2 separate regions of the Homo sapiens genome follow, and region 2 is linked to region 1. The links come from fine-mapping of genetic effects on gene expression. Tissue or cell type: whole blood. Region 1 holds a variant in brackets; the other region holds the start of a gene. All regions are shown on one strand. Distances are from middle to middle.

Evidence for each region. PIP is the estimated chance that this variant, and not a neighbour inherited with it, causes the effect.
Region 2: it holds the start of MOCS2, and the variant in region 1 is fine-mapped to the expression of MOCS2 in whole blood (TOPMed, PIP above 0.99). The same link has a PIP of 0.9 or more in blood mononuclear cells and monocytes.

Annotation. Positions count from the first base shown.
Region 1 is chr5:53,063,156-53,067,401 of GRCh38, reverse strand. It overlaps ITGA2 (integrin subunit alpha 2), which reads right to left. Exons shown (of 30, transcript NM_002203.4): 14 at 2,287-2,490; 15 at 1,425-1,561; 16 at 145-284. Among named protein-coding and RNA genes, the nearest start is that of MOCS2, 44 kb to the left of the region's middle. The variant C/A (reference allele first, on the strand shown) is at 2,152.
Region 2 is chr5:53,107,800-53,112,045 of GRCh38, reverse strand. It overlaps MOCS2 (molybdenum cofactor synthesis 2), which reads left to right and starts at 2,289. Exons shown (of 7, transcript NM_004531.5): 1 at 2,289-2,795; 2 at 3,403-3,524. It overlaps MOCS2-DT (MOCS2 divergent transcript), which reads right to left and starts at 2,204. Exons shown (of 2, transcript NR_104654.1): 1 at 1,898-2,204. RefSeq lists a silencer at 2,261-2,550.

The sequences.
Region 1 (4,246 bases):
CGGGCATCTCCAGTGTAAGGAAACTTAAGTGTCTATAACTAAAACCCTTATTTCTCTTGGCCTACAAACCAAAATATGTTATATTCAGGACTAAAACTCTGTAAGCCAACCAATTTCTATACAGATTATTTCAGATCTACGCACCCACTTGATTGTTTTGCTTAGTAGGTCTGAACTTTGCACTGAAGCAGAGTTTGAGAATTATCTGAGCATTCTTGTTGACCAAAGTGATTTTTTCTGGTGTGAATGAAGCTTCTATAGCTACATCAGCAATACTTTGTGACCTAAAAGACATAAAGAGTAACAGATGGATGGATGTTATTACTGAGCACACGTATTATATCCTTTATCATAGAGGACCCAGTACCAGCATTACTGAATTTTTCTCTCTACTCTCTATCAAAGCACTTTAGCAGTAGTATATATTTGAAAGCTCTAAGATGGCAGACAGAGATAATTTTTTTTTTAATTTGTGACTGCATCACTAACACAATACATGTTTAACATATTAGTTATTTATTATACTTTAGGTTCTGGGATATGTGTATTTACTCTTGATATGCTACTCTGAAATGATTTTAACTGATTTATTCAGTAAATATATTTTCTTGTTTTTTTAAAGTCTTAAGTATTATTCTTGAGTTTTATTTTTTCCACATAAAAGTTTCATTCTGCAATAAAAATAATGTACTTCATTCTTTAAAAGCACAAGTGAGATTTGTAAATAGTATCATTAAACTCAGAAATAAAAAATAATCAATGAATATTATTTTTCTGTTCTTCAAATATTTGTACATTTAAAGCACATTTTTTGACAGAGACAAATGAATGGAGATTCTTGATTGAATAAACAACTTCTTTCTGATTCTATTCCCTTGCCGGCCCAATATACTTATTTTTGACCTTGAATCACATGACCTTCACACTGTTCTCTCTGAATCTTCAACTCCTGTGGAGGTCAATGAGAGGTCAGCTAAACCTAAATAATGGCTTATTGTTTATGACTAATAATTTTAAAATATACCATTCAGTCACATAGAAGTTACACTTTACTTGTGTGGTCTGAATTTTCAGTATTTTTGAATGCACTCTCATGAGGTTTCCCTTCTGTATGCTGAGATAAGGCTATTTATAGGAAGATAACATTCAGAAATAGCCTGGATACCATTTCCAGAACTTTATGTTTTCTATGTACTGTTTTACTCACCATATGAGGAGAGAACTATATTTCTAATGGTAAGCAAATATATCTATTTTTCCTACTTGGAAAAACACATTTATTCCTTTGTGCAAACTATGATACATCGATTCCCTATAGTCTTATAGAATGCATGTGGCATTTCTATAATACCAGTACAGACATCTGTTCTGCTTTCTTAGCAGGTAATTTTTAGTTAGTTTGTGTCTGGCTCTTCCTGACTCACCAGAGTTGAACCACTTGTCCAAAGGCACCAATAGACACATCGGTGATGGAATCCCCATTTAAATCTCCATAGCCATCCAAGGACCTCCCAAAGTACTGGAGATGGCTCCTAAAGGCTCCATCGGATCCCAAGATTTTCTAAAAGAGCAGGTTTGACACGAAATTATAGTACACAACAGCTGAACCAGAAAATGGCAGCCTCTGAATTTCATTATTATATTTTCTATATAGTAATGTCCCAGATTGTGTTTATTCTCTACAAATTCTAAAGATTCATTTTTTAATCACATCTTATTATCTGATCTCTGCATCACTCTTACAGCCACATTTTCATCGAAGGGACAGCATAAATCTTTAATAAAAAATCATAAACCAGTGAAAAGATCAGTGGACTTGGAGCAAATTGATGCAAGTTCAGGTACAGGGTTAATTTCCTAGTTCTTTTCCTTCCAGTCTTACTCCAAAATTGGCTGCTCAGTGAGGCCTCATTAGTCACCCCTTCAACCACCTGATACTCCTATTGCTGAAATTTTATTTCCTATTTTAGTTTCATTTGCTTTTTTAAAAATTCCTTTATTACTATCTGGAATACTTTATCTTATCTACTTCTTTCTTTTTATTTGTCTCCTCCAATATAATATAAGGCACACAAAGATCAGAATTGTGTCTGTCCTGTTCTTATAGCATCCCCAGACTCTAGAACAGTGCTTGGGCACACAGTAGAGGCT[C/A]ACTTTATATTTGCTGAGTGAAAGAATGAAGTTACAAAATAAGGCGGACGGATTGCATGGTTTACATGACGCTTTCTATGTCTAATATGATAAGACCCACAAATACATACATCACCATAACAGCTCATGGATTACCTGGGAATACTTTGTGCGGATAGTGCCCTGATGACCATTGTAAATGTATACAGCTCCAGAATTCTGATTTTCTAGTGGTGAACCAACAATCACATCATTAAAGCCATCCATGTTGATGTCTGAAAGAGCTGCAATTGCTGAACCAAATCGAGTGTTTTCAATGCCCTCGGGGCCTTCAAGAAATTGGTGCTGACCCAAAATGCCCTTGCAAAGGGGAAACAAAAGGATGATTAAAGCAAACCTTACAACTTGTATAATTAAAATTCAGAGCAGCTGGGTGTGGTGGCTCATGCCTGTAATCCCAAAGACTCCAGAGGCTGAGGCAGAAGGACTACTTGAAGCCAGGTATTTGAGACCTGCTTGAGCAATAGTGAGACCTTGTCTCTATAAAACATTTTTGTAAAAAGTTAGCCAGGAGTGGTGGCACACAGCTGTAGTCCTAGCTCTCAGGAGGCTGAAGTGGGAGGATTGCTTGAGCCTAGGAATTAGAGGCTGCAGTGAGCTATGATCACACCAGTGCACTACAGCCTGGGTGACAGAGCAAGTCCCCATCTATTTAAAAAAGTGAAAGAAATATGATAAAATAAAAAAGAAAATAAAATTCAGAGCAATCGATGACCAAACTAATTTTTTAATATTAAAAATGGATAGAATTTTAAACCTGAACTATTTATGATCAGAATTATAAATAAGAATTTCAGTAAGGTCATAAATATCTGCTCATAAACCAAGGTCAAAGGAGATAATTCTCTTTACTGTAGCTGAACAGCATCCATTTCTTGGTCTCATTTTCCTCTCAATAATACGATCTTCATCTATTTCCAACCTTTTGATTTAAAATTTTTCTGGTGAAAATTACTAATATCTTGAATGAAATTAAAGCAGACACAGAACAAAATAAAACACAATATCTTAATTTAGGCTTTCTGTAAAAATTACCAAATAGTGACATAATTATAGTGGTACAGGAAGTAGAAAATGAGATTGTTAATATCTCCATTATTAAAAACATTAAATAATTCTGTGCAAAGGAAAAGACGTTTCCTTGTAAAACACAGTTTTTTTCTTCAATTTTATGATCAAGTATGGAAATATTTCATGACTTCACAAGAAAGCAATGTTTCTCAACCATGAAACTGGGTCAGTGTTCTTTCTCCTCTAATATAATCTTATACAAATTTTTACTGCGTTTGACACGGTATTAAAAGATCTGTTCATTTTCAACAATTAATGATAATTCAGTATATCTCACAAGTAAGAAATATTTAAAGAAGGGGGGATTTGTCAGTTTTTCAACAAGTAACTAGGTCCAGCCTTTGTTGATACTCAATTACACATTCTTTATATGTATAATTGCTTTAGAATTGTTTTAATTAATTACTTCTGTTAAAAGATTAATTTTTACATAAATATCAATAAATCAGGTGGTACAAAATATCACAATACTTAAACATAGTATTTACTATTTTAACATCAGCTTCTCCTTTTCTTATATACTAAGGAGCATATAATTTTCTATGTCAATCTGTGCCTTTAATTTGGTTTTCTTTTTTTATTTCATGGAGTTCACTACACTTATATACATGGATTTAGAGAGTTCAGTCCACAAATTGGAAAAATTATGCTTTGCCATGTTAATGTATGGTGTTTTTTTGTGGAAGGACTTGAAACTTCAAGAGTTGGATACATGCCTAAATGTTACACTAAGCAATGACACTTCCTGACAAACTAATGTAGGAAGCATCTGAGATCACAAGGAATTTACAAAGTGCTTGGTAAAACTTCTGTTTTTCACTGTCAACTGATAACAAGAAAGCATTGCCCTGTTATTGTTGTCTTTATCGCAAAAAATTACATGTGATACTAGAGAAATACACAAATGTTTGTGTGTGTGCATATTTCAATAAACGATGTGCACTTATAATGGCTTTATTTGCATAAGAGACTATATATTCAAAGA
Region 2 (4,246 bases), 45 kb before region 1:
TTCACTGATTTAATTAATGAATTCATAAGAAAAGTAAAATCAAAGCCTATGGAATAAGCCTGGAATATTTTGGTATCAGTTTTGCTTGCATATCCACAAATTATAGATGGGGCTGTATTTTGTAAAAAAAAAAAGAACTGTGTCATATCTACAGCATAATGAATAAACGATGTGAACAGAAACTTCACAGAGAAGTATAAGTGCTCAATGAAAATATGAAAAGATTCACCTCATTAGGAATTAGAAAATAAAAAAATGAAAGCAAGGCAATATTATTGACCTATATTTACTTGAATTTATCAACAAAATAACTGGTGAAACTGATAGGATTATAAATCATCAGATTATTGTTTATTTGTAAAAGATAGTTGCTCCTAAAATATTTTCTAAAATAAAGAAGATTATGAAAAATATTAAGAAACCTGAATTGATATTTTGTAACTATATGTTCCCACTTTGGACAGTTTCCATTTTTTTTTAATATTCTGATGTCATTTACATTTTATTTTATAATCATATCCCATAATTGATATCTTAGTTTTACGTTTGAATGGGTTAAAATCTCAATGCCAGTTTTTTTAGTTTTTCATTTTTCCCATATTAATACCTTTATTGCTGAGTTATTTACTTTGATTACTCTTGATTGAGTGGACTTTTTGCCCAAGAAAGATTTTTAAGAAGGGTTCTTGGGTATTGTGTTTTTTGAGTTTTTGCTGATTTAGGAGAATCCTGCCCCACCAGTTTGGCTGTAATATTATGGGATCATGCTTTTGTTCTCAGCCTTTTTTACACACTGCACATTGCCATCAGATGCCACTGAGGAGTCTAAGGCCACTATTGTCATTCCCTTGTTTTTATGCCTGGGTGTGAATATAGTCTTTATCCTTTATGTTTAGCAACTTTACCAGGATACACATTGGTATTCATTGCTCCTTGTCAATTTTTCCTACCAAGGACTCTCCAGCCTCACTTCTCATCACCTCCTTTGCTGGAGGCACACCTGCCTTGCCAACTACTTGCCCTTCTGTGAACTTATTATGCTTCTTCATATCCCTGTGGCTTGTCAGAGGCAAGTGAAATTTCTTCGTGCTCTACTCCCACTCTTGTCATTTACTGCCACCATTCTAGCAGATTTACCTTCTCAGCATCTTCTCACTCCCCAGGTGACACAACCACTTTCCCCTTCCACCCTTGAAATGTAACACAGATCCTTAGTATTACAGGGAATTATCATTCATATTTAAAACTCTCCTACCCAGGACTGTGAGCTCCAAGGAAAGGGACGTGTAACTTACATCCACTTAACGACGCAAGCAATTTAAAGCCAAGAGTTCTTGTTGGCAAGAATTGGGAAAGTTGGACGGACAGTATACAATTACCGAGCAGCCAATAAACAGGAAAAGTCATACAGTTCGAATGTTCTGACCAGGCGGATATTCTGTCTTTAAGAAACACTAATCATATACCTGGGAAAGAAAAAAATCTTGGGCCCCTTCAAACTGGGAATTACTCAGGGCAAATCTGCCTCCTATTCTATCCAAGTCACCTCTTTTGCTGACAAAGAATAGATGCATATTCTGATTGCCTCCTTTAGAAAGACTTATCAGAAACTCAAAAGAATGCTACTGTCTATTACCTACCTGGAAGCCCCCAGTTGGGGGGGGCGGGGCTTGCTTTTAACGGTCTCCGCCTTTCTGGAAGGAACTAATGTACTTTTTACATATTGATTGATGTCTCCTGTCTCCCCAAAATGTATAAAACCAAGCTGTGCCCTGACCACCTTGGGCACATGTCCTCAGGACTTCCTGAGGCTGTGTCACGGGCATGTCCTCAACGTTGGCAAAATAAACTTTCTAAGTTAACTGAGACCTGTCTCAAATTTTCGAGGTTCACATACCGTAGGTAAAAGTGTCAGAAGCCTAAAGGTGAGCCAGTGGAAAAGCCTGAAGACCCCTGCAAGGTTATTAGCTAAGCCTCCATAACGCAGGCGGCAAGTGTCCAGGAGTCTGGCGTCTGCTCGCCTGCACCACGACCTCCCTCCTGGGGAGAAGGACATGCATGGTAAGCCATTTCTCCATTTCCATACTGATTGCTTCCTCTCACCACCACGGCCCATCTGCGAAGCAAAACTAATCCTGGCGTGGAACAGGCCGCCTGAGGGAAACAGCTAGAGCCCGGCGCGGGGCGGAGCTGGTTGTGCGCATGCTCCGTGCAGGCGCAGGCGGGGGCTGAGCGCCGTCGGGTTACGCCTGCGCTCCGGGTGAGCCCGCGCCTGCGCCTTTGCGGCCGTGATTCGGTCCCGCTGTCCTAGGCGGGATGGTGCCGCTGTGCCAGGTAAGGGTGGCGGGTGTGCGTGCGGGCCTGGGTGCGGAGCCCTCCTCGACGTGTCTCTCCCGCCCTTTCCCTCCACATACCCAGCCTTGGTCAGTCGGACCTCCCCACTAGCCCCCAACCTGGCCGGCGTCTTGGGTTCGGGGGCGCCCCCGCCCCCGCCCCCGGGCCCTTCCTGTCTCCGGGCTTTACTGCGACTGCCCCAGCAGAAGTCGGGTCCTCTCCGAGAACTCTTGTCAGCTCACGGCAGCAAGGACGGACTCGTTCTGAAGGCGCCTCCACCTTTTATGACCACCTCTTTCCCAGATTATTCGTTTTGATGAAGCTAAAATTTTAATCTAAAAAGAAATGCACCTCATGGAGAATTCTTGTGAAGAACTGTGCTTCATCTGTGGATTTCTACACCCTTGATCATTTGCAAACCTGTAATTATTTCGTAAAGAGTTGTTTGCACGGAGTGACAGGTGCCTATTTTACTTCGTCGGATCCCTTACATACCAGGCTGCTGGCACAAGTTTGTTCTAGCAAATTCCAGTCTGTCGTGTGTTTCAAACCTACTTGCTTCTGTAAATGTCAGATTTACTATGTTGCATAACTTAATCCTTAGCGTCTGGGGACGATGTTATACAGACCGGAATCTAAGGTCATTTGACAACCGTGAGAAACAGGTTTTTCGCTTATTTATTCATTTATTTTATTTGTGTAACTCATCTCTTGACTCAAACATTTGTTCTTTGCTTACATATTTATAAAAGGTGCTATACTTTTATGTCAATTAAGGCAGGCTTAACATGTTTTCCTAGAAGATAAATACTTAGGATTTTAATGATGGCACACTTAAGTTTGTAAAACTAAAAGGCATCCAGAAATTAGTCTGAATTGTATTTAAAACAACAAGTTTTCAGAATTTGAACTTGTAGGTATACTGAAATTTTTTACGGGTTATTTAATTTTCTTTATAAAATTTGTCTTTGATTAAAGCAATACATTTGGAAAATGAGAAAACTGCTCAACATTGACAGTCAGAAAACGAGTATGAGTTGTTATTAAAAGCATTTTCTTTACTTTCAGGTTGAAGTATTGTATTTTGCAAAAAGTGCTGAAATAACAGGAGTTCGTTCAGAGACCATTTCTGTGCCTCAAGAAATAAAAGCGTTGCAGCTGTGGAAGGAGATAGAAACTCGACATCCTGGGTAGTTAAAAATTTGTAGAATGCATATGAGTAACACTTAGATATTTTCAAAATACATAAATGATAAAAGTAAAAAGGTTAATTTCGATTTCCGTGCTTAATGTCAAAAAGAATCGTTAGTTGTATTTTTTTTGGAACACCTGAAAAACTCTAAATGTGCACCGTATTTTAAGAAAGGTTAAAGATATTTTACCCCAAAACACAGTGAACCGCAGAGGGACATGATTATATTCTCTTTGATAATTTACAAAACACTGCACATGTCACTTCTGCAATTTTATAACATTAAATGAAATTGTTACAAATTCTGTTAAAAATGTGTGCTTTAAACATTTTGTTCTGCCCCTCTCTTTAGAGAGCTCAACATAGAAATTTCTAAGATTGAAAGAAAAATGAGTTACAACAAATCCTAGATGCTGCTGAATTTGAGTTTTTGTAATATTTAATTTTTTTTCTGGTTCTTGAAAAACCTATAATTTTACTTATGTCATTCCCACTTCAAGTTCTTTTTGGAACAAAATATAAAAGTGACTTATTTGAGGGTGATTCAGGAATATTAATGGTGTTACTTAGCTTGTATAGGTGTTTAACCTGGAAGTCCTAGTTCTGTGTAAAAGATACTCCATAATAAGTGTTTAAAAGCAAACCACTTCATGATTTCGTATCTTTTAAGTTGCTCTTACAGTGGCCTGATAATCAATAAAACACAGTGGGGTCTCCCAT